Linked DNA regions of Homo sapiens. The protein of the gene in region 2 binds, or shares a complex with, the protein of the main gene of each other region. Each region holds a gene or a part of one and is shown on either strand. Other genes may lie near its edges.

Region 1 (8,284 bases), on a different chromosome or scaffold from region 2:
TTTTAAGTCAGGGGAGTGGCTCCCATTTCGGTATCTCCAATGCTAGCACGGCAACTTAAATTGCATGTAAGTGGCTCTAAAAACGTATACAGAAATACCAGGGGGCCTTAACCTCCCTGGAAGTCAGGTGGGAAGAATGTTCACCTGCCATGACTCTTTCACAGTTGAGCATCTGGTGTGGCTGGTGATCCTTGGAGATCGCTGCTCACAGCAGGGTCCACCCCAAGGTCCCAAGCTCAGGCCAGGTCCTGCTCCGGCGGTGTCTCTGAGCATAGGGACCAAGGTCCACCTTCCCCAGACCCCCTGCTCCCCACGTCCTGGGACCCAGCCCTCCGTGGCTCTGCCCTCTGGCACAGCCATGCCCCGGCCCGGCCTCACCTGGTGGCTGGTCCTCCCGGAAGAGCAGGAAGATGCCCAGGCTGGCCGCGTACTCCGTGAGCAAGGACACGGCCTGGCTGGCAGGTGGGTCTTTGAGCGGCAGGCTGAGCCCTGCTGGGGGCACAGGGACCCTCGGGGCCTTCCCCATCTGTTCCCCCAAGTTTTCCCACGCCCGGGCTGCCCCCAGTTCCCCGACTCCGGCCCCTGCCCCAGGCCCACTGTCCCTCAACACCGAGACCTGGGGCCACCCGCCCTCCGCGCGATACGTCGCGGGCGCGGGCGCGGGCCCCCAGGCACTTTGGGCCTGGGCGGGTAGCGGTCGCCAGGGGCGGGGCTGGGGGCTGATCTGCAACGATGCAGCCAGGCGGGGCTTCCTACGACTGCCGTCGTCGTCAGCGCCCTGAGAAGCCGAAGCCATGGCCGCCAACGAAGATCTGAGGCGCTAGGCCCTATCTCGCGCTGCTCTCGCCCTTTCACACGCGCAGGGCGGGTGCCTTCACGTGGGGAGCACGCGGACGAAGCGTGGTGAGCTCCACCCCTGCCATACGATGGCCAATGAGAGCCCTGAGATCTGTGATGGACAGTGCACCCTGCCAATGGGAAGGCCAGTCTCCCAACGACGGCGGCTTGGATGCTTATGGCTGAGGCCAAGGTCCCACTGCCTGGACGGAAGTTCCGGCTGAGACCAACGTCCCATGGCCTGGAGGGAAGTTCCGGTGGGTGGGTGAGGGGTTGCTCTAGCAGCTGCTTCTTTAACCGTGGGTGGTCGCGGAGCCTGCAAGGCGGGGGAGGAGCATCTGGGGGCGTCAGGTCCAGTTTCACACTCTAGCTCCTGCCCTAGGCCCCTAGGCACCTCCACATCACAGGCTGCTCAGCTGCTTCACTGGCTGAGCCTGGAGACTTCAACACAGGAATTAGGGGTTCACACTGTCAGCAGGATCATTGGATATAAAATTTCACTGCAGGCCTTTCTGAAGCCAAACATAAGTGTTCCCCAGCCAAGAATTAGCCATTTGATGCAAAATGTAGGTGGGCGTGGTGGCGCACACCTGTAGTCCCAGCTACTCAGGAGGCTGAGGCAGGAGAATCGCTTGAACCTGGGAGGAAGAGGCTGCAGTGAACTGAGATTGCGCCACTGCACTCCAGCCTGGGCAACAGAGCGAGACTCTGCCTCAAAAAATAAATAAATAATTTTTTTTAAGAAAATAGCCATTTGATACTCTGCCTTTTTCCCCCCTAAGAAGGGATTTTGAGTTAATTCATACAAATAAGACAAGATAACAATTGTTTAAAGTGAAGAGCTAGAGATCAAGAGACATAGGAAAAATAAGATAAAGACAGGGATGAAGACAATTTACACAAGGCTTACTGTGATGCAACGCGTATTTGCTTGAAGGAGGCTGCAAGTTTAACGGAGTCTTACAGTAGCCACTAACTTGGGAAAGCATGACCAGTGTCTGTAAGATTTGTCACAGTGCTTGCTGCTGCTGCTGCTGAAGCTGGGCCTGGCAGCTCTCTCCAGGATTGTGACAGTGAGGATGCTGGGGCATATGAGGACCAGGTGGTGGAGTCCTCCCAGAACCTTTGACTTGGAAGAAGCAGGTGTGGTGGGCTGGGTAGTCAGCCTCCCCAACATGTCAAGAATTGACATCAGGAAGAACAATTCCATTTTGTGTGTGTGTGCAGCCCAGAGAGTGGGATGAGGCCCAGGAGAGTGAAGGGACAGCACAGCAGATGTCCAGAAATGGACTGAGGGCTGCACATATCCACAGAGAGACTTCCACAAAGTCATCAAACCCAGTAACGCCCCAAACGCTCACCAACAGGAGGTTGCGTGAACAAATCAATGGTATATTCATACAATGGAACACGACTCACTAATTTAAAAAGGAAACAACAGCTGCGTACACAACACAGGTGAATCTATTAGGCACATGGCGTGGAAGAAGCCAGACACATCCTCTCCATGATTCCACTTATGTAAAGTTCTTGAACTGGCAAAACTAATCTGTGGTGATAAGAGTCCAAATAGTGGTTCCTTCTTGAAGGAAGTATTGACTGGGAAGTGGCACCAGGGAATTTTCTTTTTAGAAAAAAATTTTGTAGAGATGGGGGTTTTGCTCTGTTGACCAGTCTGGTCTTGAACTCCTGGACTCAAGCAACCCTCCCACCTCGGCCTCCCAAAGTGCTGGAATTATAGGCATGAGCCACTGTGCCTGGCTGGAACTTTCTTGAGTGATAGAAATGTTCTCTGTCTTGATCTGGGTGGTGTTCATGTGGGTTTCTATGTATGAATAAAAATTCAATGAGCTGTACATTTAAGACTCGTGTGCTTTACTGCATGTTGAGTATATGTCAGTTACAAAAGCAAATTGATAATGGCTTATTCAGAGAAAGGAGGAAAGGAAGAAATGGAACTGGCCTCGCAGTGCCAAAGCTGGATAGGCGTTTTACAAGGGTAATGTAGAATATTAGTGTGGTAGGCAAAATAATGGTTCCCCCAAAGATGTCTACAGCCTAATCCCCAGAACCTATGAGTATATTATTTGGCAAGGGGGCATTAAGGTTGCAGGTGGAAGTAAGGTTGCTAATCAGCTGCCTTTAAAATAGGGCTCTCACCTGTAACCCCAGCACTTTGGGAGGCCCAGGTGGGAAGGTAGCTTGAGCCCAGGAGTTAGAGACCAACTTGGGCAACATGATGAAATCCCATCTCTACAAAAACTACAAAAATTAGGCCGGGCGTGGTGGCTCATGCCTGTAATCCCAGCACTTTGGGAGGCCAAGGCGGGTGGATCACATGGTCAGGAGTTCAAGACCAGCCTGGCCAATATGGTGAAACCCCGTCCCTACTACAAATACAAAAATTAGCTGGGTGTGGTGGCAGGCACCTGTAGTCTCAGCTACTCGGGAGGCTGAGGCAGGAAAATCGTTTGAACCTGGAAGGTGGAGGTTGTAGTGAGCCAAGATCACGCCACTGCACTCCAGCCTGGGTGACAGAGTGAAACTCTGTCTCAAAATAAAAAAAAAAAAAGAAAATTAGCCAGGCATGGTGGTGCTTGCATGTAATCCCAGCTACTCGAGAGACTGAGGTGGGAGAATCATCTCAGCCTGGGAAGTTGAGGCTGCAATGAGCCATGATGGTACCACTGCACCCTAGCCTGGGCGACAGAGTGAGACCCTGTCTCAAAAAAATAAATAAAACAAATAAAATAGGGAGATTATCCTGGATTACCTGGGCGGGCCTACTATAATCACATGGGTCCTTACATGGGAAAGAGGGAGACAGAAGAGTAAAAACCAGAGAGATGGCCTCATGAGAAGAATCCGACTGGCATTGCTGGCTTTGAAGATGGAAAGGGGTCATGAGCCAAGGAATGCAGGCAGCTTCCAGAAGCCAGAAAAGACAAGATAGTGGACTCTTCCTTAGAGCCTCTCAAAAGGAACACAGCCCTGCTGGCACTTTTAGTCCAGGTAAAAACTTCCAGATAAAAACAATATAGGCCAGGCGTGGTGGCTCATCCTGTAATCCCAGCAATTTGGGAGGCCTAGGCAGGCGGATCACTTGAGGTCAGGAGTTCAAGACTCAGCCTGACCAACATGGTGAAACCCCGTCTCTACTAAAAATACAAAAATTAGCCGGGCATGGTGGCGCAGGCCTGTAATCCCAGCTACTCGGGAGGCTGAGGCAGAAGAATTGCTTGAACCCAAGAGGCGGAGGTTGCAGTGTGCCAAGATCGTGCCACTGCACTCTAGCCTCCATCTCAAAAAAATAAATAAAGACATAGATGACAGCTGAGAATTTGGAAATTGATTCTTTAAAGCAACGGTTCTCAAAGTATGGCCCCTGGACCAGCATCATCTGGGAACTTGCTAGAAATGCAGACTCTTGGGCCACATCCCAGATCTACTGAATCAGCAACTCGGGGGGCAGAGGTAGGGTGGAGCCTAGCAAACTTGTAACAAGCCCCCCAGGTGGTTCTAAGGCTCACTGAAGTTTGAGAAGTACTATGTTAGGATAACGGTAAGGTTCATGACTGGACAGTGGTTCTTAAAGCATGGCCCCCAGATAAGCAGTTTCAGCATCACCTGGGAACTTAGGCAAATCATCAGGTCCCACCCCAGACTCACCGAATTGGAGACTGTGTTTTAACTAGCCCCCCAGGTGCTACTGCTGACGCACGCTAGCTAGAGTTTGAAGACCACTGCCTAAAGCTCTCCCTGCCTGACCACCCCTGGAAAAGCTTCACTCTTAGTAGGTATTTGTACCCTTATTTGTAAAGCCCGCTTCTTGGGATTTAAGGACAATCAGTAGGATACCTACTGACCAATACAGGTCTGGCTTATAGTAGGTGTTCTGTGGGAGTTCGTTAAATGATTAATTTAATACAACTCTGAGGAAATTGGTGAAGTAGATGTGGGATTCGAACCTAAGTCCACCCGGCCTCCACTATTGGGACTCAAGGGAGCTTTATTTCCGCTGCCCACGCGCCGCCTGCACGCCCGTTCCCTCTCCTCCCGGGAGGGGGCGCGCCAGGACCCTAAGAGGCCTGGCTGGGAGGCGGGACTTCCTGCCTCCGCAGGAGGCACTTCCGGTCCAAACCGGAAGACCGTGGGTAGCTGCGGCGGGGCTGACCCGTCCCGAGTGCCAAAGCTGGGGTTCTACTTGAGATTTCCCTCGTGGTGCCAGGGTCCGGCGAGCATCACGCCGAGGCCCATTTTCCAGACGACCACGACGAGGCCGGGGTCACGTAAGTGCACGCATGCGCCCCCTCCGCGCGGACTGCGCGTGTTCGAGGAGCGGACCCGCAGATGTAGGAGGGGAGGGACGCCCCCAATCCCCAGTCCCCGCGGCAGGCTCACGTTTCGCAGTCCCCGGCCTGTCGTTATTGCGGATCCGACTGAGTTCTGTAGCCTTGGAGGTCTAAAGGGTCCTGGAGAGCCCGCAGCGAGGGCGGGAAGCCGGCCGGGGAAGTCGAGGCTGCCTTGTCTGAGGGCTTTTGTGGGGTCGTGCTCTCCACCAGCGCCCTCCGCCTGTCTAGGATCGTTTCAGGCTATGCGGTTCCAAGAGAAAATATTTTTGTTTCTATTTTATTTTTGAGATAGAACCTTGCTCTGTCACCCAGGCTGGAGTGCTGTGGCATGATCTTGGCTCACTGCAACCTCTGCCTCCCAGATTCAAGCGATTTTCGTGCCCAGCCTCCTCGGTAGTTGCGATTACAGGTGTACACCACCACGCCCGGCTAATTTTTGTATTTTTAGTATTGACAGGGTTTCACTGTATTGGCCGGACTGGTCTCAAACTTCTGGCCTCAGGTGATCCGCCCGCCTTGGCCTCCCAAAGTGCTGGGATTGCAGGCGGGAGCCACCGCACCCGGCCAAAGGGAAAAGATTTTTGTATAGCGAGACTCTAATGCTAGCGTTTGCATTTCGGTGCATGCGAGAGCACTGGTTCGGAGCTCTGCCTCTGAATCGGATGGGAATCAAGTCTTGGCTGTGGCAGCTAAGAGCTGTTGGACTAAAGTTCTTGCTGAGCCTTCGTTTCCTGAACTCTGTTAACAGGGACGGCGATAGAAGAGTGCAGCATTTAGCATGTGCCTGGCAGATAGATGCTGGCGCTTGGTCAGCGAGCGCTGCTGTTATTTTTGCCCCTGTTATTTTTGTTAATTAAAAAGGAGGGATGCTATGGCTGCTCATACTTCTAGAGGACTGTATTTACCAAAGCCTTGTGATGTAATTTTTTTTTTTCTTGAGATGGAGTTTCGCTCTTGTTGCCCAGGCTACAGTGCAATGGCGCGATCTCAGCTCACCGCAACCTCCGCCTCCCGGCTTCAAGGAATTCTCCTGCCTCAGCCTCCCGAGTAGCTGGGATTACAGGCATGCGTCACCACGCCCGGCTAATTTTGTATTTTTAGTAGAGACCGGGTTTCTCCACATTGGTCAGGCCAGTCTCGAACTCCCGACCTCAGGTGATCCGCCTGCCTCGGCCTCCCAAAGTACTAGGATTACCGGCGTGAGCCACCGCGCCCGGCCCCTTGTGATAGAAATTTATTTTTTTCAACCCCTAGTGCATTTTCTGGGAGGCACTGTGCTTGACAGTAGGAAGACGATGCTCAGATGCAGTCCCTGGCTGTGGAGTAACTTGAGCGTCTTGGGGGTGTAGTCTGTAAATGTATGATGACGGTACTTACGAGCCGGGAGAGAGGCTGCCCCTTGCCGTCTTTCTGACTCCATCTCCACCGCTCTCCACCTCGCTCACTCTGGCTGCCTCATTTTCTCACACACTTCACTGCTCTAGGATTTTCACAGTTGTTGACCGTTCGGCCTGGAACCCTCTTCCCAGTTGCGTACATGGTTCTCTCCTTCACTAGGTTCAGGCTGTGCTCAAACGCCACCTTCTCAACGAGGCTTTTCCTGGCTGGCTTTGCTGAAACCACGCCCTCAGCCCACTACCAGATCCCCTTCTCCTGGACGGGTGGTTGGCTTTAATACAGTTCTCACTACTGCTTGGCCTTGGGCTACATATTTGTTTTTTGTTATCTGCTTCCTCAAAGAACATATGCTTCCCGTAGTGCACTTTTCACTCCTCAGGAACTCTGGCGCCCCTTACCAGCTTCCAGTCTCTCGAGGTGGCCAGTGTGGTGCTTGGTCCTTGTTTCCAGGATGGACTTCCCCAGCTCCCTCCGCCCTGCATTGTTTCTGACCGGCCCCCTTGGTCTGAGCGACGTCCCTGACCTCTCTTTCATGTGCAGCTGGCGAGACGCACTGACTCTGCCAGAGGCCCAGCCCCAGAACTCAGAGGTGAGGATGCAGGCAGGGGGCCCTGGCAGCTCCAGGGACATCCCTTCCCTGGGTCCCCCGTCTCACATTCACATCAGTTGACAAGGCCACAGAGTGGTGGCATTCACACGAGTCTGCTGAGACACAGGCTCTGCCACCTCCTCTGGGGTACATGGGCTACCCTGCCATCCCTAGACGGATGCCCCCACTATGCCGGGTCCCTTATGAGACCGTGAGAATGCTGCCTGAATCAGTCGGTTGACCCCTCCCTTCCTGGAACGGAGAGCTGAGTTGAGCGAGAATAAACAAGTGAACTTTATCCAATGGATAAGGTGTTTACAAAATGTGATCAGAGCTTGGAATGAAAGCAGAAGGATGCTGAAACAGCATAGTAGGGTTGGGAGAGGGGAGGATAGACCTGCAGGGTTTCTGCTGCCTCTGGAGGGACACTGGCCCTTTGCTTGGAATCCTCAGCCGCCTAGTTCCCCTTGGAAACACCCTGTCTGGGAATGAAGCCTGGCAGAGGCAAGTGGGTGAGCAAATAAAAAGAGAGACAGTGGAGCAGAGGCTTGGGGAACGGGGGTCAGGGATGGCATCCTTACGAGGGAGGGTCTGGCGTCAAATTGGGGCTCCTCTGGGAGTCTGGTTTCCTAGCTCTTTTGTCCCCTGAATGTCTGGGCCGAAACATCCCAGGCCAGCCCAGCAAAGGGAGGTGGAGCCGCCTGCCGGGCTCCCAGAGTGACTGCAAGGTCTCCTGAATGGAAGTGAGGTTACGTGAGATGTGGACCAGCCACTGGTGGCATGAGGGGCTTCCTTCTTTGAGAGCCAGCACAGGTGGAGGTCGGAAACAGGAGCTCTGGGGTCAGGCTGCCTGGGTTCACATCCCAGCTCTTCTCTTTACCGGCTCTGTCTTCTGGGGCAAATGGCAGTGTGCCTCAGTTTCTTCAGCAGTAAAATGACAATGCCAGTCATCCCAGCTTCGCAGGATTGTTGTGAGGATTGGATGAGTTGATAAGAGATGAATGCCTGTGCACAGCCTGGCCCAGGGAGGGCATTCATCATGATACTGTCCTTGCGATTGTCCTCCCTTCAGAATGGGGCACTGCATGTGACCAAGGACCTGCTGTGG
Region 2 (7,415 bases):
GATATTTTGGAGTGATGGAACTGTTCTACGTAGTAATTGTGGTGAGTACACACATGCAACTGTATGTGTTTGTCAGTGCTAGCAGAACTACACTGAAAAGAGTAAATTTTACTGAATGTAAATTATACCTTAATTTTTAAAAATGAGGAAACATATGCAGACAGACAAGAGAGAAATATATAGATAACATGTAACTGGAAAACATGGTTTGTGATGTGTCTCCTTTTGTAGTTTTATGTAATGAGAAAAGGCAGGCAAGGTAAAGTCAATTTTGGAAGAAGCTTTCATTTCAGGTATCTGAACACTTAAGAGTATTTTTATTTTAGATCACCTTTCCCATTCTTGGGGCATATCACCCCAAGGGCATCATAATGCTTTCTTGATCTGTGGCATGATTGCCACTTGTGTAGGCATTTACTGTAAATGCATAAGAAACTTCCATTTAGATTAGGTATTCACAAGGAATGTTTAACAGTGAGTGTGCCCAGGGATTGGGATTAGACTGTTCAGGGAACTTCTTTATCCTTTGAGATTTTATTATTTAAGAAAATTAATGGCAAAAAAATATATTTTAAAGAATCGCTAACTCATTTACCATAACATTAAATGACAAACTCTCTGATATATTTTAAATGTGGTATGGTTCACTAAAGTTTAGTTTCACATGATTTTCAGGAAACCATCTCCTGTATAACATTAATTACATCTCTACTGCTACCTAATGATTAGAAAAATTTCCTTTCTGTTCTTTTTTTTTTTTTTTTTTGAGATGGATTTTTGCTCTTGTTGCCCAGGCTGGAGTGCTGGAGTGCAATGACACGATCTCGGCCCACCGCAACTTCCGCCTCCCGGGTTCAAGCAGTTCTTCTGCCTCAGCCTCCCAAGTAGCTGAGATTACAGGCATGTGCCACCATGCCCAACTAATTTTGTATTTACTAAAGAGACGGGGTTTCTCCATGTTGGTCAGGCTGGTCTCAAACTCCCAACCTCAGGTGATCCTCCCACCTCAGCCTCCCAAAGTGCTGGGATTACAGGCATGAGCCACTGCGCCCGACTCCTTTCTGTTCTTAACATTTAATATCATTGCAGAAATTCAAAATAAAAAGTCAACATCTGTTTTATGTATAGTCATGATTTTACTGACTTGATCAAGTATTTTTTAAAATTCTTGAAAAAATCAGTTCTTAAATCGGTTAAAATGATTATTTGCTAAATGATATTACTAAAATATTGTTAAAAATGTGTGCTTTTATATACGTATTACTTCCTAGTATTAAAAATAAATGGTGAGAAATTATTATAGATGCTACAGATTTTTAAAATATTTGTATTTCTGGCTTCCTATTTTTAATCTGTTTTTCTGGAAAGTTCACAGATATTTCTTGAGTATCTACTAGCCAGGCACTTTGTCAAGTACTAATAATAATTCTAATTATTGTATAGGATTTAAAGAACCAATACATACAGCATCTTATTCTTCAGAATAACCCTGTGAAAGTAGAGGATAAGTTTAGAGATGCTAAATTCATTTCTTTGTTCATTTATTCACCCAATTATTCTTCAACAAATGTTTAAATGAGTTCCTACTCTCTACCACTCCCTGACAACACTAGGGGCATAAGGATGGCTGAGACAGTCTCTGCCTTTAAGAACCTCCATAATTTGTCATTCAAGGTCATGCCACTAGAAAATGGTGGAGCCGGCCGGGCGCGGTGGCTCACGCCTGTAATCCCAGCACTTTGGGAGGCCGAGGCGGGCGGATCACGAGGTCAGGAGATTGAGACCATCCCGGCTAAAACGGTGAAACCCCGTCTCTACTAAAAATACAAAAAATTAGCCGGGCGTAGTGGCGGGCGCCTGTAGTCCCAGCTACTTGGGAGGCTGAGGCAGGAGAATGGCGTGAACCCGGGAGGCGGAGCTTGCAGTGAGCCGAGATCCCACCACTGCACTCCAGCCTGGGCGACAGAGCGAGACTCCGTCTCAAAAAAAAAAAAAGAAAATGGTGGAGCCAGGTCTTCTGATTCAGTACTCTTTCTTGTTGCCACAGTGTCTTTCAAAATAAGAAAATGGCCTGGGATTAAGAAGAAGGTGGATTTTTAAAATTATTATAAGTTATGAAAGTTCTCTGCTCTAGGGAACACAGAAATAATAAAAATGAGACCAAGAATGAACCTTGTTGTCTTTGTTCCAGAGCAGCAGCGTCTGCTTGGCAAAGTTTAGCAACAGCCACTAGAACTAGAAATAGAACATGTCACTTCCTTTTGGAGTCTGGAACTGATCACCCTCATCTGTAGGAACCTTAGATGGCTCTTAGTGTTTGTCCTGGAGGGAACCCCAAGAGCCAGAGCAATCCAGGATCCCCATTTTACAGTGGAAACTCCCTGGCCATCCTTCCCTTGGCAAGAATAGGCTGAGTCAGAACAGGGACTACTGGGACTGTGTCATCCTGGAATCCAGTCTTTTCCTCTCCTTTACACCAGGAATAGAATAGATTTCCTGGCATCAGATGCCAGAGAGACGCATTTACTGTTCACTGTGTGTAAGTTATCAGAATCAGAAGTACTACTAACAACTCTCAGCAAAAAGGCATTGGGACAAAGGCAATGAGGAACAGTTGTTTCTGAGGTAGCTTCACTTTATGAGAATGAGCAGCAAGGGAAATTTATGGTGAAGGAAACAGTTTCTATGTTTTTTGTATAATTAATAGCTTCTTCAAGATGTCACAGCATCTGGGTGGCTTTTGAGAGGAGCACACCATTCTCTTGGCCTGGGCTGTTGGTCAGTGGTTCCTTCTAGGGCCTAAGTTCAATAGGCAATATAGACATGTGCCAGTAGGCCATTCCAAGCCAGAGCTATAACGAAATATCAGAAATCTCAGATAGTGCTTCAGACAATGTGTTTATGTCCGTTTCATCTCCGTCCTGCTCCAGCTGTTTCTTTACCTTGTACAGGTACCTGTGGAAAAGTGAAAAGCCACTCTACTACTCATTTGTCGACAAACCAGTAGCATATAAAAAAAGAGGTAAGTCAAATTTTGTCTTTTTAATACCAAGTAGCAACACAGTTGTAGAAAAATTAAATATCTGGACTTGAAATGTTGAATGCTTAAGTTTTTTACTTTTTTTAAACAAATGTTCCAGGGCACATGTACATCCAAAGGAGCATCATACTCTGCAAGAAATCTCTGCAGGAATCTACTTCAGGAATATGTCGTTCTTCAAAACAGAGCCTCAGTTCCTGCCAAAATCTAAAATCCTAAATCGTTATGATTTTGGAAATTCTTTGCTTATAGAATTCCTTTTAGACTGTACATTCTTTTTGAAGTAAGGTTTCCCCCATGCACCTCATCCAGTTTCATTTTCCCTTAACGTTATCCTGTTACATTACTGTGGTACATCTGCGAAAACTAAGGAACCAATATTGGTACATTCCTATCAAGTAAATTCCAGGCTTTATTTGTGATTTAACATTACTTGTTATTTTGTTTCCTTTTTTTCTCCGGTTCCAGAAATGGTGGTGAATCTACAGAAACAATTTAGCACACTGGTCGAGTCAACAGCAACTGCTGGAAAAAAAAGCCCTTCAAGTTTTCAGTTCAACTGGACTGAAGAGGACACTGATAGAACGTGTTTCCATGGACACAGCCTTCAGGGAGTCCTGAAAGAGAAAGGCCAATCACTGCTGACTAAGAATTCATTATATTGGCTTAGTACACAGAAATTCTGCAGATGGTAATAATGCTTTTAGAAAAAGTCACATATAATTGAAGTAGTTGACTGTATAAGAGCCAGATAGGTTTTTTGTTGGAATTAGAAGCTGGTGAGCTTAAAGTCACGAAAATCAGAATTATACATTGAGTCTTGTGTAGGAGTTCTAGGAAAGCTGGTAAAAATCAAGAAAGAGGATACAGGGCAATTAGCACAAACTATCCCCTCTAGCTAAATTAACCTGCAGTGTGGCAGGCAAGCAATAGAAGTGGCTGTAAATGCTGATCAGGAGAATGTGCTGTATTTTTTAGTACATATCACTTCTCTGAGTCAGTTACCTTTATCATGTCTTTCTACCTCTTAATACTTCCTTAAGTATTTCCTAAAAATAAGGATATTCTCTTAAGTGACCACAGTACAGTTATCAAACTCAGGAAACTTAATACTGATACGATACCTTTATCTCACCCACAGTCCATATTCCAATTTTCTCATTAGACCCCCAGTGTCCTTTTATAGCAGGATCAAGTTCAGGAGTAGGTATGGCATTGATTGATTTTATCTCTTCGGTCTCCTTTAATCTGATTGTCCCTCAGCCTTTCTTTGTCTTTCATGACATTGAGCTGTATTTTTCAGAAATGTCAGTGATGTTACACAATGTTTCTGAGTATGGTTGTGATGGTTCCTCATGTTTAGATTCAGGTTCTGCATCCCTGGCCAAAACAAGTGCCGTGTCCTCCTCAGGGTATCATTTCTCAGGGTATGGCGTCTGTAGACTGGGGCGGGGGGCGGGGGGTCCATTTGCCCCTCAGGTGTTAATAGTGATCACCCAGTCAAGGTGCTGTGTCGTTTTTCCACAGTGTAGTTACTATGTTTCCCCTTACAACTAATAAAAAATCTGCAGGGAGATACTTGGTCAGTGAAATACTCTGATCTTCATTCAACTTTGTCCCCTTGATTTCATGTTTTATGTTCTGTCCTCGTATCTGTCGAGTGTGGGCATGTGAAGTCTAGAAAACAACACGCGCTTTTATGGTTATTGGGTCTGGATAAAATAGGACTAAAGATGGGAAGCTGCACTGAGGAGAGGAATCTGTGTAGGACATAGTGGAAAACTTGTATGTCTAAATAGTAAGACACAGGCTTTTGACTTCATCAGGTTTAATTAATGATCGGCTCTGTGGCATACTGGCTCTTAGACTTCCGGCTTAGTAATAGGCTGCCTTCTTATTTTTGCTTTATTTTTTCAGAAGAGTTATATATTCCCTATAAACGGTCGATATTGGAATAATACAGTGTAAATTCTTAAGTAATTTATGAGGTCTTGCTGTGTCACCCAAGCTGGAGTACAGTGGCACGATAATGGCTCACTGCAGCCTCAACTTCCTAGGCTCAAGCAATCCTCCCACCTCAGCCTTCCAAGTAGCTGGAACTACACGTGTGCACCACCATACCCAGCTAATTTTTTATTTTTTGCAGAGACGAGGGTCTCCCTATGCTGCCCAGGTTGGTCTCAAATGCCTGAGCTCAAGCAGTCCTCCTGCCCCAGCCTCCCAAAGTGCTGGGATTACAGGTGTGAGCCACTGCGCCCAGCCATCTATTTTCATATGACTCAGAAAATTTCCTCAGGCAGTAGATAGTGAAGAACATATTACTCCCCAGAGCACATTCGTTTTTCTTTAATTGTACTGAAAATCAACTCCAAAAGTATTTTTTGAGTACTTGATAAAAATAAGTCATTATCCTAAGTCCTAGATAGATACAAAGGTAACTCAGGAAGTTTGTTTTCCAAGTCCACTTGAAGAGAAGATTTTTTTAATAAGAGTATGTTTTCCCCACTTTCCTTCTGTAGTGTCTTAATAGCTGTAGAGAGGAGTATATGGATTAAAAATTACAGAGATAATCAGTGGGGTATACAGGTGTTTACCATAAAATTCTTTCAACTTTGCTGTATGATTGAAATTTTTTATAATAAAGTTTGAGGAGAAAAACTAAAAAGATTCAGGCTATGCCATGAAGTTTTTTTCTCCTTGCCTATTTTAACTTTTAGTTCCGTTTTATATAATAATAGCGAAAAGGCCATTCAATAAAATAGTTCTGTGACTTTGAAGTTACTTTACCTTTCAGTGTCTTCCTGTTAAAAATAAAAAGACTAGACTAATATTCCCTCACTAAAGTTCTCAGTAATTAACGTGTGAAAAATAAAAGCATAAAGGCTTTTCTCATTGTGACTATATTTAAAGTAATCTCATCCCCATATTGACATAGAAATTGCCCAAGAGGAAATTTTCTAGTAGCTAAGAGGACTTGCTATAGAATCATAGAATCGGGCTGTTTCTATCCTAAGTCTGCCACTTGCTAATTGTAGGAAGGTTACTCACTTCTCTACAGCTGTGCTGACCCAGTTGTAAATGTGGGGATAATACTGATCTTTTCCTCTTCTCAAAACCTTCAGTGGCTCCCATCTCATTGAAAGGAAGACCCAAAAAACATTGTGGAGCCAACACGGCCCTCTTGACCTTCCCTCTGCTGTCCTCTGACCTCCTTGCTGTCACCCTATGTTCAGAGTGACCTCCCAGCTGCTCCTTGAGCTTACCAGACACTCCCCACATGGGCCTTTGTACCTGCTCTGCCTCCTGCCTAGAATGTTCTTTCCCCCATGTATCCACATGGGCTCACTTCTTTCAGGTTTTTGCTCAAATTTCACTTCCTTGGAGAGATTTTTCTCAGCCATCCTGCCTAAAATAGCACCAATCATTCCCCCAACACCCCTCATTATTCTCTGTCCCCTGGCCTATTTCATTTTTCTTTGTAGTTTTCATCACTATTTAATAGAATATATTATTATATATTTATTTTGCTTATTTATCCATCTCCCCACACTAGAATGTAAGGGCCTTGAGAATGTAAGGACTACTAGAATGTAAGGAGGACTCTGTTTTATTTAATGAAAAATCCCAGCGGCTAGACCAGGGCCTAGCACAGACTAGGTGCCCACCAAGTATTTATTGAATGAATGAATGGAAAATAGGGCCTACCCCAAGTTCTTGTGAGAATTGAATGAGGTATTTGATGTGTGTCACATAGTAAGTACTCAATCAAACATAAGTATGACCATTATTATTTTAAACAAAGCTAATTTTCTGTTAACTAATGTTATTTCCTGGTCTGGGCTTGGTGGCTCCACCTGTAATCCTAGCACTTAGGGAGGCTGAGGCAGGTGGATCACTTGAGTCCAGGAGTTCGAGACCAACCTAGCCAACATGGCAAAACCCTGCCTCTACTAAAAATACAAAATTAGCCGGGTGTGGTGGTGCACGTGTATAATCTACTCGGGAGGCTGAGGCATGAGAATCACTTGAACCCGGGAGGCATTGGTTGCAGTGAGCTGAGAGCACACCACTGCACTCCAGCCTGGGCGACAGAGCAAGACTCCATCTCAAAAAAAAAAAAAAAAAAATTATTTCTTAAGTTGGTATCAATCAAAGATAATTGAACTGTAGAAAATACAGTGGGAGATGATAAAGTTGTCTATATTAAGATTTGCTGCTTAAAAAAAAAGTTGAGCTGCATCTACAACGATTAAAGAGTGGCACTGTTGGCCGGGCACGGTGGTTCACACCTGTAATCCCAGCACTTTGGGAGGCCAAGGCGGGCAGATCACCTGAGGTCTGGAGTTCGAGACCAGCCTGACCAACATGGAGAAAC
Region 3 (7,702 bases), on a different chromosome or scaffold from region 2:
TATAATCATTCTATTGCAAACATTTAGGATGTTATATTTACTTTAGTACTTTATCAAATACCAGCTTTTATTGTTCTTGATTTAATACATGTAATCTAATCTCCCAAATATATATAACTGTTTATTAACGGTCCCAAATTTTTGAGACGGAGTCTCGCTGTGTCACCCAGGCTGGAGTGCAATGGCATGATCTCGGCTCACTGCAACCTCCGCCTCCCAGGTTCAAGAAATTCTCCTGTCTCATCCTCCCCAGTAGCTGGGATTACAGGCATGTGCCATCATGCCCGGCTAATTTTTTGTATTTTAGTAGAGACGGGGTTTCACCATGTTGCCCAGGTTGGTCTCAAACTCCTGAGCTCAAGCAATCCACTTGCCTCGGCCTCCCAAAGTGCTAGGATTACAGGCGTGAGCCACTGCACCCGGCCCCCAAATCTTATATAATCATACTTAAATTATTTTAAACATAGTTTTGTGTGGGGAAAAGAGAGCTCAGACTGTTACTGTGTCTATGTGGAAAAGGAAGACAAAAGAAACTCCGTTTTGATCTGCACAAAGAAAAATTGTTTTGCTTTGAGATGCTGTTAATCTGTAACTTTAGCCCCAACCCTGTGCTTACAGAAACATGTGCTGTATTGAATCAAGGTTTAAGGGATTTAGGGCTGTGCAGGATGTGCCTTGTTAACAATATGTTTGCAGACTGTATGCTTGGTAAAAGTCATCGCCATTCTCCATTCTCTATTAACCAGGGACATGATGCACTGCAGAAAGCTGCAGGGACCTCTGCCCAAGAAAGCGTGGGTATTGTCCAAGAATTCCCCCCACTGAGACAGCCTGAGATATGGCCTCGTGGGAAGGGAAAGACCTAACCGTCCCCCAGCCTGACACCCATAAAGGGTCTGTGCTGAGAAGGATTAGTAAAAGAGGAAGGCCTCTGTTTCCCGCATATCCCTGGGAACAGAATGTCTCCGTGTAAAGCCGACTATTCGTTCTATTCTGAGATAGGAGAAAACCACCCTGTGGCTGGAGGGGAGATATGCTGGCAGCAATACTGCTCTGTTACTCTTTGCTACACTGAGATGTTTGGGTAAAGAGAAACATGAATCTAGCCTACTTACACATCTGGGCACAGTACCTTCCCTTGAACTTATTTATGACGCAGATTTCTTTACTCACATGTTTTCCTGCTGACCTTCTCCCCACCATCACCCTGTTCTCCCACCGCAGTTCCCTTGCCGAGATAGTGAAAAGTAATCAATAAATACTGAGGGAACTCAGATACCAGTGCCGGTGCAGGTCCTCGCATACTGAGTGTGCCCGTCCTCTGGGCCCACTGTTCTTTCTCTATACTTTGTGTCTTATTTATTTTCTCAGTCTCTCTTCCCACTTGACGAGAAATACCCACAGGTGTGGAGGGGCAGGCCCCCTTCAGTTTTGGGTTGAATAATTTATAATTGTTCAGGAATGAGACAGTTTAACTTTTTCTTTTAAATAATTTCAGATTGACAAATATTACATACAAATAATTCCTATACATTCTTCACCCAGATTTCCCAAATGTTAACATTTTATCACATTCTTTATCAAGCAAACATTGGGTACTAACTTATTTATGAACATGTCAAAATCTGCACAATGAATAGTATATTCATTTATAATGATAAAAACACTTTACATATTTTTGCTGGCAGTAGGAATAAGAACACAAGTTAAAATCCAAATGTAATCTTAATTTTATTCCCTTTATTATCTCTTTAGTAAAAAGTTAGGTCAGTTGTTTCCGTTTATTTATGTCCCTACCAAAGTAGAAACAAAGTCCAATCTTGGGAGGATGTAGCTTGAATAACTGGTTTAGAAATGTACTTATTAGGGGTACTTATTAGGGATTAGTGGATAAGTGCTTAAATGGTTGTGGATAACAGTGCATATAGGACTCTCAAGTATTTCTATAACAGACACTTGTGCGTTCTACTCTATATTTGACATTTAGACAAAAAAATCAAATGAGTTCCTTAGACTATCACTTTTTCATAATAAAATTTAAATTATGAAGGCCCGTCCAATTCTAAAATGATGTGAACTTCAGGCAGGCTGATGGCACAGCAGGCAGTGTGGTAGCATGTGTATGTGAGTGTTTATGTGTGTGTTGGAGGTGGGGAGAGGGTTACAGTTGGAGCTGAGAAAGGAGTTAGGTTCTCACATAAACTCCAGGAATACAGCCTTGGGCCAGATGGAGGCAAACAGTATTTTCCTGCCTAATTGGTGGGAGTCGATGGCCCAGAAATAGGGTCTAGAAGGGAAACGGAGCTGCAGAGGTTAACACCTGGAGGGGTAGACCAACTATCGCAACTAAACTGGTTACCATTTGAGTGCACACTATATACCAGACACCGTTAGACACTGTGCAGACGTTCTCTCAAAACTTTTCACAACCATGACAGGTTGTAAGACAGGCTGTGGGTCTTCAGGGGTCGCGGGCATCCCCTAGACACAGCCGCAGGGCCTGCATGGAGTTCGCTCCTACCGGCGACCAAAAGCGCTCGCTCCGGCTCCAGCATCTGCTCACCCCCACGCACCCTCCCATAAAGGGTGGAGCGCAGCAGGCCTGGGTGACTGGAGTTCGTGGCTTCCAGCACTCCAGTTCCCGCCTCATTCACTCGCGCCCCCCCTCCCGCGAGGAGTTGAGAGCCGTGGGCTAAGTAAGTGAGGCACCGCAGCCGCAAGACCCACGAAGGGGTCAGAGGAATATCCTGCTTCAACTGCACTCCAGCCTGGGTGGCAGAGCAAGACCCTGTCTCTATAACACAAACAGAGAAATACCAAATGTGGCCGGGCGCGGTGATTCACGCCTGTACTCCCAGCACTTTGGGAGGCCGAGGCAGACGGATCACTTGAGGTCAAGAGTTCGAGACCTGCCTGGCCAACATGGTGAAACCTGGTCTCTACTAAAAGTACAAAAATTAGCCGGTTGTGGTGGCGGGCGCGTGTAGTCCCAGCTACTTGGGAAGCTGAGGTGGGTGGATCTCTTGAGCCCGGGAGGTGGGGGTTGCAGTGAGCTGAGATCGGGCCACACTGCACTCCAGCCTGGGCGACAGAGCGAGACTCTGTTTCTAAAAAAAAAAAGAAAAAAGAAAAAATACAAAATGAAATGTGAAATTTCAATGATTCTGCATTAGGAGTTAAATGTTCCTTCCCTTTAATAGCACTTTTCCCCTTCTTTTTGAACAAGGGACGCTGCATTTTCATTTTGCATTGAGCCTCACAAATTACACAGCTAGGCTTGCTGCTGAATACGGCAGTGAGGGACATGCCATACCAGTCCTGGAGCTTCGTCATTGCCCAGACCCTGTGGATCAAATGCAGTGGGCTGCCTAAAGGATCGGACTTTTTATCCCCGGAATTGTCCAAACTATGGAGCAAAGCAGGTAAAGAGACCAGATTACTTTTAAGGCCCGTTCAATCCTAAAATGTGAACTATAAAATAAGACTAGACAGCTTTACTGATTTTTGTGGTTTATCATATGAAAACAGAATTTTGAAAGCGGAAAAATCAAACCAGTTCATTCCTTTTTAAAATTACTTTGGGAGGCCGAGGCGGGAGGATCACCTGAGGTCGGGAGTTTGAGACCAGCCTGACCAACATGGAGAAACCCCCGCCTCTACTAAAAATGCAAAAATTAGCTGGGCATGGTGGCGCACGCCTGTAATCTCAGCTACTGGGGAGACTGAGGCAGGAGAATCGCTTGAACCCGGGAAGCAGATGTTGCGGTGAGCCAAGATCGCACCGTTGCACTCCAGCCTGGGCAACAAGAGCGAAACTCGGTCTCAAAAAAAAAAAAATTACTTTGGGAGAAAAAAACCCCACCAAAACTAAACTAGTTTACACTGTTTAATCTTAACTCAGGAACCGGTCAAGGAACTAATGGTGTGGGGCAGGGGGGATGTAGGAGGAAACTTAGGAAAAACAAATCCTCCACAGGTCTCACTTGTGACATGTTAGCCAACTCCTGGGAGGCAGAAAGGGTGAGCTTACGAAACAGGTGCAAAAGTGGGGAGGAGACCTGGGCGTGCTATGGAATAACACTGGCGTCCAGCACAAAGGTTACACACTTCGAGTCATGGTCAAAGAATGAGCCTTCTCCAATATTTTAACACACAAGGGTTTCTGAAGGCAGAAATAGACAAAGGATTACAAAACACTCAGGCACACATCCCACCCGTCACCCTCGCCACACACCCGGGACCAGATTTAGAAAGCCAGGCGACAGCTCAGCAAACGCGAGACCACCGGAAACGAACCGGGCTGAGAGGCTGTTTCCTCACAGTTCTCATCCACTCACAAGTGACCGCACGTTTTGTTTTTGTTATTTGCCGAAATGTTCTTGGCTATTCCACTCACCTAAACGGTCACGGTAGCAAAACACCCAGAGTCCGGATCTTCGCCTAGGCCAACCCCGCCTCCTCAGAATACGCGAGCTAGAGCTCCGCCCACGTTAGTCAGTCCTCCCTGCGCGGCGAGAAAAATGGCGCCCCCACGTCGCGTCTCCTCCCACCGCTCGCCTTCTTCCCGGAAGCTAAGTTGTATCGCGAGATTTCGGCCTGACTATTACTTGGGCCACGGAAATAGCCAACCCTTTTCTTCCGCACGGTTGGAGGAGGTCGGCTGGTTATCGGGAGTTGGAGGGCTGAGGTCGGGAGGGTGGTGTGTACAGAGCTCTAGGACACCAGGCCAGTCGCGGGTTTTGGGCCGAGGCCTGGGTTACAAGCAGCAAGTGCGCGGTTGGGGCCACTGCGAGGCCGTTTTAGGTAGGTTGCTAAGAGGGCGAGGCCGTCCGGGCCTGGCGGGCGGGGGAGGCGTTGCATATCTGGGGTTTCCCGGGGCCCCTTCGTTGGTCCGGAGGATCGAGACTCCGAAGTCGGTCCGAGAGGGTGAAGGGATCACGGCCGCAGGCCACTCCGCGCCACGCGGCTGGTATGAGTCCCACACAAACGTGGTTGTAGTGTGGACGGGCTTCATTATATCTTGAGATGGAGGTGTTAAATCGTGTTGCGGACAAGTTTAACCTTATTACGTGATTTAAATGATTTAACCTTCGTATGTGAGGTACCCATTACTCGCGCCGGTTTTCTGCAGGTTAGGCGCTGCCGGGTGAGAGGCGCTGGTGGTCACAGCGTTAGCTCCGGGTAAAGCGCCGCTCTCTGCCCACGTGGCCTCTAAGAATTGCAGAATCCCCACGGAGGCATCGACACCCAAGTAGGAGTGTCTTCTAAACACTTCGAAAAAGTGATTATTGAGCTAGCTTTATTTTGATAATCCCTACTTTTAAAAAAAATTAACTACAGGTATACCGTTAAAGCATGGGGGCAAATTTTTGTTGAATTCCGTTTTTGAGCATTCGATATTTAATGACTTTGTAGAATCTTGTACTTAAAAAAACTAGTAAGACCTTGTACCAGGAAAATACCACAGGGGGCATTTAACAAATCTGAGCTCTTGGTGACCTTATCGTTTCATATTTTAAATATTTTGCTAGTTCATCCTAGGATTTATATGTAATGACTCATGTCAGGTCCCAAGAAGCTACAGAATGAGACAAGAGATTGACTAAGGCATGTACAATAATGAAATAAGTAGTTATCTTTAATTTTTGTTGCCATGCCTTTTTTTTTTTTTTTTTTTTTTTTTTTTTTTTTCCTGAGACAGGGTCTTGCTCTGTCGTCCAGGCTGGAGTGCAGTGGTGCAATCTCGGCTAACAGCAACCTCCACCGCGGCTTAAGCGATCCTCCCGAGTGGCTGGGAGCAAAGGCACGGGCCAACACACCTAGCCAGTATTTTAAGAATTTTTTGTAGAGACAAGGGTCTCCTTGTGTTGCTGAGGCTCACTACATACAAGCTCCACCTCCCAGGCTCAGGTATTCCACCTACCCCAGCCTCCTGACCACAGGCGCGCGCCACTATTCTGGCTAATTTCCGTATTTTTTGTAGAGACGGAGTTTCACCACGTTGCCCAGGTTGGTCTTGAGCTCCTGGGCTCAAGCGATCCGCCCGCCTCGACCTCCCAAAGTGCTGTGTTACACAGGCCTGAGCCACCCAGACCAACCTGTTTTTCTTTTTTCTTTTAGCTCACAAGAAGGAATCTTTTTCTTTTTTTTTTTTTTTTTTTTTGGTATGTTGTATACTCTCTACCATGGGGATGAAGACACAAGAATTATGATAGTTCATTGAAAAAGGTTGAGAATTCAGAACTTGTCAGTTTCCACCAATAATGGCAAAGATACAATATGACAAAGTTCAGTTGCTTAAATGAATCTAGGAATGAAGAATCTAGGAATTATAATGGAGAGGTGATTAGGAGTTTAAAATGGTTTATTGATTGGAGATCCTTTTCCTGGTTTATATAGGGCACACTTTGCTTTAGGAATTCCCCCTTTGATCTTGGAAAACGGCTTTTAATTGTACATTAATACTGTATTGGTAATTGTACGTTAAAATATGTGGCTAATGATAAAACTACATTTTTTACTTATATTGAAAGATGCTTTTGTTGGAAGGGACGGTACTTTTTTGGAATCTTGTTGCGTTGAATACATTTAGAGGGTAACAACTGAAAGAACCTGTGAATAGAATTTCTGGATTTCTTTTTAAAGAAACTGATCTGAAATGGATAAGAAGCTTAACCTTGGTAAATGATTTCGCCTGAAATCATTGGCATAGTCTGACCACGTTCAACACTGTAGTAGATACTGTCAATATTTAGGGAAGCTTTGTCATATTTACTAAATTTCATAATTTCAGAAAACTGTTTAAAACAAAGAGCAATTGATGGATAAATCAGGAATAGATTCTCTTGACCATGTGACATCTGATGCTGTGGAACTTGCAAATCGAAGGTGAGTGGATTCAATCATGTTTATTGTATCTGAATTATGAGAAACTATTGTATATAATGAGTGACAGTAAAGATAATTTTCAGGAATTGGGAAAGAAGGAAAACTAGATTTCACTGACCTTCCAAGTTTATCTAGTTACATAGATTGATATAATAGCATTGCAAATACTTTAAATTCAAAATGTGAATATATTATGGGACACATTCGTCGAGAAAAAATGTATTCTTTGGGTCATATTAGCATCTCTTCCAGACTACATCCTCCGGTTCGGTAGGCTGTGTTTGTTTTACTCAGACACTCTTAGCAGTGAACCGAACCATACAGCCTTTTGGAGCTCATACATTGTCTTGAAAGATACAGTTTTTTTGTAAGCTGAGCATAGTGGTGCATGCCATTAGTCCTAGCTAGCTACTTGGGAGGCTGAGGCAGGAGCATCCCTGGAGTTTCCAGGAGTTTGAGGTTGCAGTGAGCTGTGATTGCACCACTGCACTCCAGTCTGGGTGACAGCAAGACGATGTCTACAAAACTCTTTAATAAGAGCTGTAGCATTATGGGCTATTTAAATAGGATGATCAGTAGAAAGGCTAGCTGGTTCTGAGCCCATCCTTTAAAAAATTTTTAATTCTGGGCATGTTTTCTGAGTTGGTCTTGGAAGAAATGTACATTTAGGACTGGGTATTAATGGTAATAAGCAGTAAGAAAAGAAGATGAAATTAATTTTTTTCCCATTTTTCTAGTGATAACTCTTCTGATAGCAGCTTATTTAAAACTCAGTGTATCCCTTACTCACCTAAAGGGGAGAAAAGAAACCCCA
Region 4 (7,415 bases), on a different chromosome or scaffold from region 2:
CTTGAAGCAAGCCAGACTTGAGTTCGAGCCTGGCTTTCTAGGTATAGCATGGTCTGGACTGGAGTCCCTGCCCTGATCCAATATGGCCACAGTTTCCTTAGGGCTGAGCCATATCTTGTCTGTGCCTTCAGATGGGAAGCAACCAGGGGCTGGGATGCCCTAGGGAGGAAGAGTTGAGCACTCAAGAACTGGGGAACAGATCGGGGGGATAGCATGAGCCAGGCATGATGGCCTCTGTTACTCTTTACCAGACCGTTGGTCCCAGGAAGACATGCTGACTTTGCTGGAATGCATGAAGAACAACCTTCCATCCAATGACAGCTCCAAGTTCAAAACCACCGAATCACACATGGACTGGGAAAAAGTAGCATTTAAAGACTTTTCTGGAGACATGTGCAAGCTCAAATGGGTGGAGATTTCTAATGAGGTAACTGATCCCCCTTTTCTGACATACACACATACCCCCCACTCAGCGTGGTGGGGGAAGTGAAACAGGCTGTAAACAGGAAGGAAAGAGACCAGGAGAGGCATTCATGTGGTCTCCCGTTAGCTCTCTACCTGCCCCTTTGCATTTTGGGAGGTGGCACGGTTGACAGCACTGGCTTAAAGTTATGCCACTTTCTATCTGAGTGGTCTTGAGCCAAACAGCCTGAGCTGTGCTGAGATTGACGGAGGTGCTAGCATGCTGAGATTGACGGAGGTGTTAGCATGGACAACCAGGTTGAGGTCAGTTAGTCCCCTTGTTGCTGGCCTTTGGTGTGTACTGACTGCCTGGGCCTCTGCGGTAGGCATGGGCCAGTGCCTGGGTGTCATGCTGCCTGCTTCATTTGGCTGTTGGCCTCTGCTCTTCTTTGGTAAATTTAGTCTAGTAAAGAGTAGAAGAGACCCGTTATAAGATGGGGGTATACTACTGTGTGGCATTTTCCTTTTCCCAACTTCCCCTTCCTCCCACCCCTCTTCCTCCAGGTGAGGAAGTTCCGTACATTGACAGAATTGATCCTCGATGCTCAGGAACATGTTAAAAATCCTTACAAAGGCAAAAAACTCAAGGTGAGTTACTAGGAGGAGGAGCATGAGGGGTATGGGAGGAAAGGTCCAAAGAAGGGATGTATTTGACCTCCATTGTGTCCTTGTCCCTTCTTCCAGAAACACCCAGACTTCCCAAAGAAGCCCCTGACCCCTTATTTCCGCTTCTTCATGGAGAAGCGGGCCAAGTATGCGAAACTCCACCCTGAGATGAGCAACCTGGACCTAACCAAGATTCTGTCCAAGAAATACAAGGAGCTTCCGGAGAAGAAGAAGGTGGGGGGAGGAGAGTTAAGGTGGGAGGAGGGGAGAGGCTGGGAGCAGCTGGTGTGGTGTGGGTCAGTTGGAGGTAGGCCTTGGAGAAACCTGGCATCAGGGATGAGGGTGAGTCAGCACAGCAGAATAGGTCCTGGGCAGCCACACCTGATTGCCCCTTCCTCGGCCCACACATGGTCAGGCACAGGCACCATCACAGATGTAAACCAGACAGCAGGTGCTCAGACCAACCTTTCCCCCTACAGAAAACCCACAGCATTCTGTTTCAAGCTCTCTCTCCCCCATACACCCATCCTCACTGTTAGGCTCCGCAGCACTTCTTCACCCTCTATGACGTTTCCCGTCATGGTCTCATTTGATACTTGCAATGTCTTTATAAAGGTAACCCTAGGAAAAGGTTATCCCAGTTTTGTGGGCAAGGAACTGAGGTGCAGGAGGGTTAAGTGTCCCGGGTGACACAACTATTGATGCTAGAGCAGGATTTAGTGCCCCAGAGTCCCAGTCCAGTGCTGTTACTGCCACGTCCACCTGTGAAGTGCACTTCTCCACGCACACGTGTTCACTCAAGGACACACATTGTCCCTCCTGGCCTCATACTGTTCCTTGCAGAGGTCGGGCACTGTCCCAGACCATCAAAGCATTAACTCTGGGTGGAGGGTTGCCTAAGCCTCCCAGGCAGGGCTCAGTCACAGAGCTCAGGAGGTCCCTCCCAGAGATAGGCAGCAAAACATTGGAGGAGCCTGCAGATGGGACACGAGGAAGATGGGATGGGGACAGAGGACACAAAGAAGAGACACGGGACAAGGAGACAGAGCCAGGGATAGATGGGGAAGGGCAGCAGGAAAGACAAGAAGCACATCTGCTTGGAGAGGAAACAAAGTCATACACAGCCAGTTCTCAAAAGGGGGCACTGGCCGCTGCCATGCTATGAGTAGCCCTTTTTCCTGGTTGGCATACCCTGGCTGCAGACTCACATGCCCTTGGTGCTGTACCCAAAAAAGCCAGCTGTCTGCAACCACTGCCCAAGCAGAGAGGGGTATGGATTGCTGGAACTGTTGACCCCTTTGATGAGGATGTTGGACAGTTGACTGCACACACCCAAACACTCTCATGGGATGGGAGGGAGAGGCCAAGCTCTAGAGTCAGAGCCAGGGAAGGCCAGAAGAAACTGGTAGAGTGGACAAGGTGCTGTCCTGGGGGACACAAGACTTGGGCCTGTTCTCCTGGCTCTGCCACTGAACCGCTGTGTATGGGGCCTTTGGTAAGTCATTTCACTTCTGTGGGCCTGGTCTTTATGTGAGGTGAGCCAGGTCTGTGTGGTCCCCTTCAGGTCTAAAACTGTTTTGTCTGAGGAGGACTGAGATGGGGGAAGAGGAGGCTGAGCTCTGCTTCTGGTTTTCTGTGGGAACTGTGGGAAAGGAGCACTGCCTTTCTATGCCTGGTGCTTCTATAAGAGGCAGGGGTTGGGCTCAGTTGCCATGAGCTCCTGGCACCTGCCAGTGCCACTCTTGTGAGCCCGCGAGGATGAAAGAAGAGATGGACATTGTGTGGGAGCCAAGAGAGAAGGTCGATGAGGAAGAGAAAGAGACACATTGGAAAGGAGGAACAAGAAGGAGACTATGGAGAAGTGGGGAAAGATGCAGGGAGGGAGTGAGGTGAGAGTGGGGAGGCTAAAAAGGGGGTGATGAAGGGAAGGGAAGCCAAGTGGTGGGAAAGAATGAGTGGGCTGAGGGAGGGAGGGCTGGAGGGGCCAGACAGCCAGGATCCTGGAGAAAGAGAAGAAGGTGATGGTGTGAGAACTGGGCAGGAAGATGCAGGGTAGCTGGCTGAGACTTGTATTGGAAGAACTCGCTCTGGGTTCCCCTCCACACAATCTCCCCTCATGCCTTGGAAACAGGACTCAGCCCAGCCCTGGCCATAGATGTAGAGGCTACGTACAAGGGGACAGACTAATGTCAGCTGCCACAGACAGTGAGAAGAGGGAGTGACAGGAGCAAGGCCTGCACCCGACGCCACTGTGAGAGTTCTATGGTGTTGGAGAAACGAGTGGGGGAGGCTCAGCGCTGCCACTGCGCACTGTGTGACCGTGGGTAATGCCATGGCCCCCTTCTGGGACTCTTGCTCAGAAGGAGAGAATAGGATGTAGGATTCAGTGTCTGGGCGACCCCTGCAGCTCCCACCATCTGTGGTAGAAGCCAGCAGGTCTGCTCTGTGGTGAGTCCCGCCAGGAGGCGGGCAGGGCGCCAGCCTCCACTCCCTGCATCACAGCGTGGGAGGCAGAAGAGCCAGCGAGGAGGGGTCTGGGTGGCCTTCATAGCTCAGGGTGAGATACCCTTGGGTCCTGAGTGACCCCATCCCCTCCTCCCCCCAGATGAAATATATTCAGGACTTCCAGAGAGAGAAACAGGAGTTCGAGCGAAACCTGGCCCGATTCAGGTAAGGCAGTGGAGCCCAGAGGAGGGCCACGGGGCACTGGGGGCAGCAGAATAGGCTAACCCTGGCCAGAGCCTTGAGTTTGCCATCTCTGAGGCATGGAAGAGGATGGGTCACATGTGAGCCCTAGTGTGTCATGCTCAGGGACAGAGACAGGCAGGCAGCCACCGTCCCACTGAGCCCCAGCTGAAAGGCCCAGGAGGCTTGGTGGGTGGGGCAGCTAGCTTGAGTCTGCCCTGGCAGCGTCCCCTGCTGATCCTTGCTCCCCGTGTCCTGGCTAGGGAGGATCACCCCGACCTAATCCAGAATGCCAAGAAATCGGACATCCCAGAGAAGCCCAAAACCCCCCAGCAGCTGTGGTACACCCACGAGAAGAAGGTGTATCTCAAAGTGCGGCCAGATGTGAGTGTCCGGCCAAGGGTTGGGGGTGGAGGATGCACGGCGGTGGCCAGGGGGGAGCCGCGCCAGGTCGGCCGGGCACGGTGCAGGGGAGCAGGAGAGGAGGCCCCTCCCCAGGGGTGGGCTGCATGGACAGGGCCCGGGCCAGCTGGCGTGCAAGCGTGTGCGTGTGTGCGTGCGTGTATGAGCCAGTCCCCTTGCACCCAGGCGGGATCCCCGCCTCTCCGCCTTCCCCTCCTGGCCTGTGGGGGACACTGATGTGACCTCCCATGGCCTGAGGGGGCGGGGGCCTCTGTGCCCCCTTCCCCCTTCCCCCCTCCCCCTGCCCCTGGCTGCCTGTGCGTGTCTGACGGCTTTTGGTTTGCAGGCCACTACGAAGGAGGTGAAGGACTCCCTGGGGAAGCAGTGGTCTCAGCTCTCGGACAAAAAGAGGCTGAAATGGATTCATAAGGCCCTGGAGCAGCGGAAGGAGTACGAGGTTAGGCTTCCGCTGCGCTCCTCCCCGTCCGGCTCTTCACGAGCCTCTGCCCTCCGACTCCGTGGCCACCGCACTCTGCGGGAGGTGTCACTCCCCATCCCTCTGTTGAGGGAGGGGCCTTCTGGGCCCCTCACCTCTGCCCCTACCTTCCCCACCCCCCACCCCCATGAGATCTCAGGCTAGGGCAGGGCAGGGCACCACGTCTCGTGTGACACCACTGACGCGCAGCCACCCCCAGCTTTGCTCCCTGCCTGCCCTCCCCAGCGGCTCTCCCCCTGCCCCTGCCCTAGCTAACTCCACACCCCATTGCCCTCCGTCCCCCCACCTGGCTCTGCAGGAGATCATGAGAGACTATATCCAGAAGCACCCAGAGCTGAACATCAGTGAGGAGGGTATCACCAAGTCCACCCTCACCAAGGCCGAACGCCAGCTCAAGGACAAGTTTGACGGGCGACCCACCAAGCCACCTCCGTGAGCGCTGCCCTGGGATGGGTGGGCGAGTGGGCAGCTGGGAAGTTGGGCTGGGCTCTGCAGGTGAGAAGGCCTGCTGCCCTGCTCGCTTACGGGCTGCACCTCTCTCCCCGCGGCTCTGATAGGAACAGCTACTCGCTGTACTGCGCAGAGCTCATGGCCAACATGAAGGACGTGCCCAGCACAGAGCGCATGGTGCTGTGCAGCCAGCAGTGGAAGCTGCTGTCCCAGAAGGAGAAGGACGCCTATCACAAGAAGTGTGATCAGGTGAGCTGTGGCAGGGGCCACCCTGCCTTGGGGTTTTGAAGCATGAGGTCTGATCCCATCTTGGGCCAGTCAGTCCCTGGTGGCGTGTGCCTTGGGTACCTGCCTCCAATACAGTGTGGGGCTGGGCTGGGCTTAGCAACTGAGCCCGTCCAGGCAGGGAGTCCAGCCCACACCCAGGCTCTGGAGGCCCGCTGAAGGTCACTGTCCTCCGAGTACTGCAGGGTCTGTGGTGACACTGTCTCCAGACTGATCCTGACTCCACTCACTTTCCCAGAAAAAGAAAGATTACGAGGTGGAGCTGCTCCGTTTCCTCGAGGTGAGTGTTCCTCCGGTGGGGCAGTGGGCAGAGAAGACTGGGACTTGGCAGGCAGAGCCCTGGTGAGCCCCTGGAGATAGGGCACCATGCAGTCTGGGTGCCAGGCATGCAGCCCCGTGCTCCTCTTTCCTGTCCAGAGCCTGCCTGAGGAGGAGCAGCAGCGGGTCTTGGGGGAAGAGAAGATGCTGAACATCAACAAGAAGCAGGCCACCAGCCCCGCCTCCAAGAAGCCAGCCCAGGAAGGGGGCAAGGTGGGCAGAGGGTGCGGCCGCGCAGGCGGGGGTGGGCAAGACTGGGCTCCCTGGCAGCACCCACGGACCCCGACCCTCTGCACCTGGACAGGGCGGCTCCGAGAAGCCCAAGCGGCCCGTGTCGGCCATGTTCATCTTCTCGGAGGAGAAACGGCGGCAGCTGCAGGAGGAGCGGCCTGAGCTCTCCGAGAGCGAGCTGACCCGCCTGCTGGCCCGAATGTGGAACGACCTGTCTGAGAAGAAGAAGGTCAGGCTGCCTGGCGGAGCGCTGTGCCCCCAGGGGGGCTGCCAGGGCCCCCTCTTCCCCTTGGCGGGCCGTGCCACCTCGCCCCTGGCCGCCTGAGCCACGCGGTGCCTGGGCTGGGACGTGGGGCCGGCGCCCAGCAGCCGGAAGGCGGGAAGCTGTCAGCTGAGCGCCGCAGACCAGGCGGGGGCGAGCCCCAGGCGGGAGACATCTGCACCAGCCCATGCTTCTGCCCGCCGGCGGGAGCGCCTGGGCTGCTGCGCGGGGAGCGCGCGCCCCCTGGGGGTGGGTGGAAGGCTGACGCCCGGGCCATCCCCGCAGGCCAAGTACAAGGCCCGAGAGGCGGCGCTCAAGGCTCAGTCGGAGAGGAAGCCCGGCGGGGAGCGCGAGGAACGGGGCAAGCTGCCCGAGTCCCCCAAAAGAGCTGAGGAGATCTGGCAACAGAGCGTTATCGGCGACTACCTGGCCCGCTTCAAGGTGACAGGGGTGGGAAAGGGTAGTACTGCAGCCTCTAGCCCCGGGTGACCCCTCCCACGGCTGATACCCTTATTGGTCCCCAGAATGACCGGGTGAAGGCCTTGAAAGCCATGGAAATGACCTGGAATAACATGGAAAAGAAGGAGAAACTGATGTGGATTAAGAAGGCAGCCGAAGACCAAAAGCGATATGAGGTAGGAATGGGGCTGGGGCCACCCCATTCATTGAAAGCTCGGGAACTCCCCTTTGGTTGGGCAGCTCTGAGCAAGAAGTCCCAGCCTTGGTCTGTGACTCTCAGCAAGTCTCAGCTTCCTTCTCTGAACCTCTGTCTCTCATCAGTAAGGTGGGGGTGACATTGCTAACCTCCAGGCTGACTCGGAGGATGCGAGCAGTTGTGAAAGCACTTGTAAACTGTGGTGCCTGCCTCAGACGTGAGCTGTTAGGAAGTTGCTCACTAGCTACCTGTTTCTCCTCCTCCCTGGCACAGAAAAAGACAGCCAGCTAAGGTGCTGATGGCATGAGGCAGAAGGCAGCAGTATTTTGGGGGTGGGACTGGGGGGTGAGCGTGACCTTTCTCCCTCCAGAGAGAGCTGAGTGAGATGCGGGCACCTCCAGCTGCTACAAATTCTTCCAAGAAGATGAAATTCCAGGGAGAACCCAAGAAGCCTCCCATGTGAGCCTGGGGGTTGGAGTCTGCCCTGGAGGTCGGGGAGGGTCAGGGCTGGATGGCTGCTTTGTTGGGGTCCTGACCCTCCTTCTACCAACCCACCTCCCAGG

Evidence for each region.
Region 1: TAF1B (region 2) and TAF1C share a complex: the UniProt entries of both Homo sapiens proteins name them as parts of the transcription factor SL1/TIF-IB complex.
Region 3: TAF1B (region 2) and TAF1D share a complex: the UniProt entries of both Homo sapiens proteins name them as parts of the transcription factor SL1/TIF-IB complex.
Region 4: TAF1B (region 2) and UBTF share a complex: the UniProt entries of both Homo sapiens proteins name them as parts of the pol I pre-initiation complex.

Annotation. Positions count from the first base shown.
Region 1 is NC_000016.10:84,183,743-84,192,026, reverse strand, and holds the start of TAF1C (TATA box-binding protein-associated factor RNA polymerase I subunit C), read left to right. Parts: upstream 1-4,969; 5' UTR 4,970-5,126; intron 5,127-6,443; exon of another isoform or gene 6,444-6,545; coding exon of another isoform or gene 6,546-6,547; intron 6,548-6,966; 5' UTR 6,967-7,037; coding exon of another isoform or gene 7,038-7,038; coding exon 7,039-7,176; intron 7,177-8,248; coding exon 8,249-8,284. Other genes in the region: ADAD2 (adenosine deaminase domain-containing protein 2), read right to left, coding at 379-796. UniProt on the Homo sapiens protein: Component of the transcription factor SL1/TIF-IB complex, which is involved in the assembly of the PIC (pre-initiation complex) during RNA polymerase I-dependent transcription.
Region 2 is NC_000002.12:9,916,090-9,923,504, forward strand, and holds part of TAF1B (TATA box-binding protein-associated factor RNA polymerase I subunit B), read left to right. Parts: intron 1-2,951; coding exon 2,952-3,022; intron 3,023-3,508; coding exon 3,509-3,731; intron 3,732-7,415. UniProt on the Homo sapiens protein: Component of RNA polymerase I core factor complex that acts as a GTF2B/TFIIB-like factor and plays a key role in multiple steps during transcription initiation such as pre-initiation complex (PIC) assembly and postpolymerase recruitment events in polymerase I (Pol I) transcription.
Region 3 is NC_000011.10:93,738,423-93,746,124, reverse strand, and holds the start of TAF1D (TATA box-binding protein-associated factor RNA polymerase I subunit D), read left to right. Parts: upstream 1-4,629; 5' UTR 4,630-4,803; intron 4,804-6,793; 5' UTR 6,794-6,820; coding exon 6,821-6,888; intron 6,889-7,625; coding exon 7,626-7,702. UniProt on the Homo sapiens protein: Component of the transcription factor SL1/TIF-IB complex, which is involved in the assembly of the PIC (preinitiation complex) during RNA polymerase I-dependent transcription.
Region 4 is NC_000017.11:44,209,541-44,216,955, reverse strand, and holds part of UBTF (nucleolar transcription factor 1), read left to right. Parts: intron 1-251; coding exon 252-427; intron 428-966; coding exon 967-1,050; intron 1,051-1,146; coding exon 1,147-1,302; intron 1,303-3,673; coding exon 3,674-3,738; intron 3,739-4,016; coding exon 4,017-4,137; intron 4,138-4,501; coding exon 4,502-4,612; intron 4,613-4,949; coding exon 4,950-5,083; intron 5,084-5,208; coding exon 5,209-5,350; intron 5,351-5,624; coding exon 5,625-5,666; intron 5,667-5,803; coding exon 5,804-5,917; intron 5,918-6,008; coding exon 6,009-6,164; intron 6,165-6,482; coding exon 6,483-6,638; intron 6,639-6,721; coding exon 6,722-6,832; intron 6,833-7,222; coding exon 7,223-7,311; intron 7,312-7,414; coding exon 7,415-7,415. UniProt on the Homo sapiens protein: Recognizes the ribosomal RNA gene promoter and activates transcription mediated by RNA polymerase I (Pol I) through cooperative interactions with the transcription factor SL1/TIF-IB complex.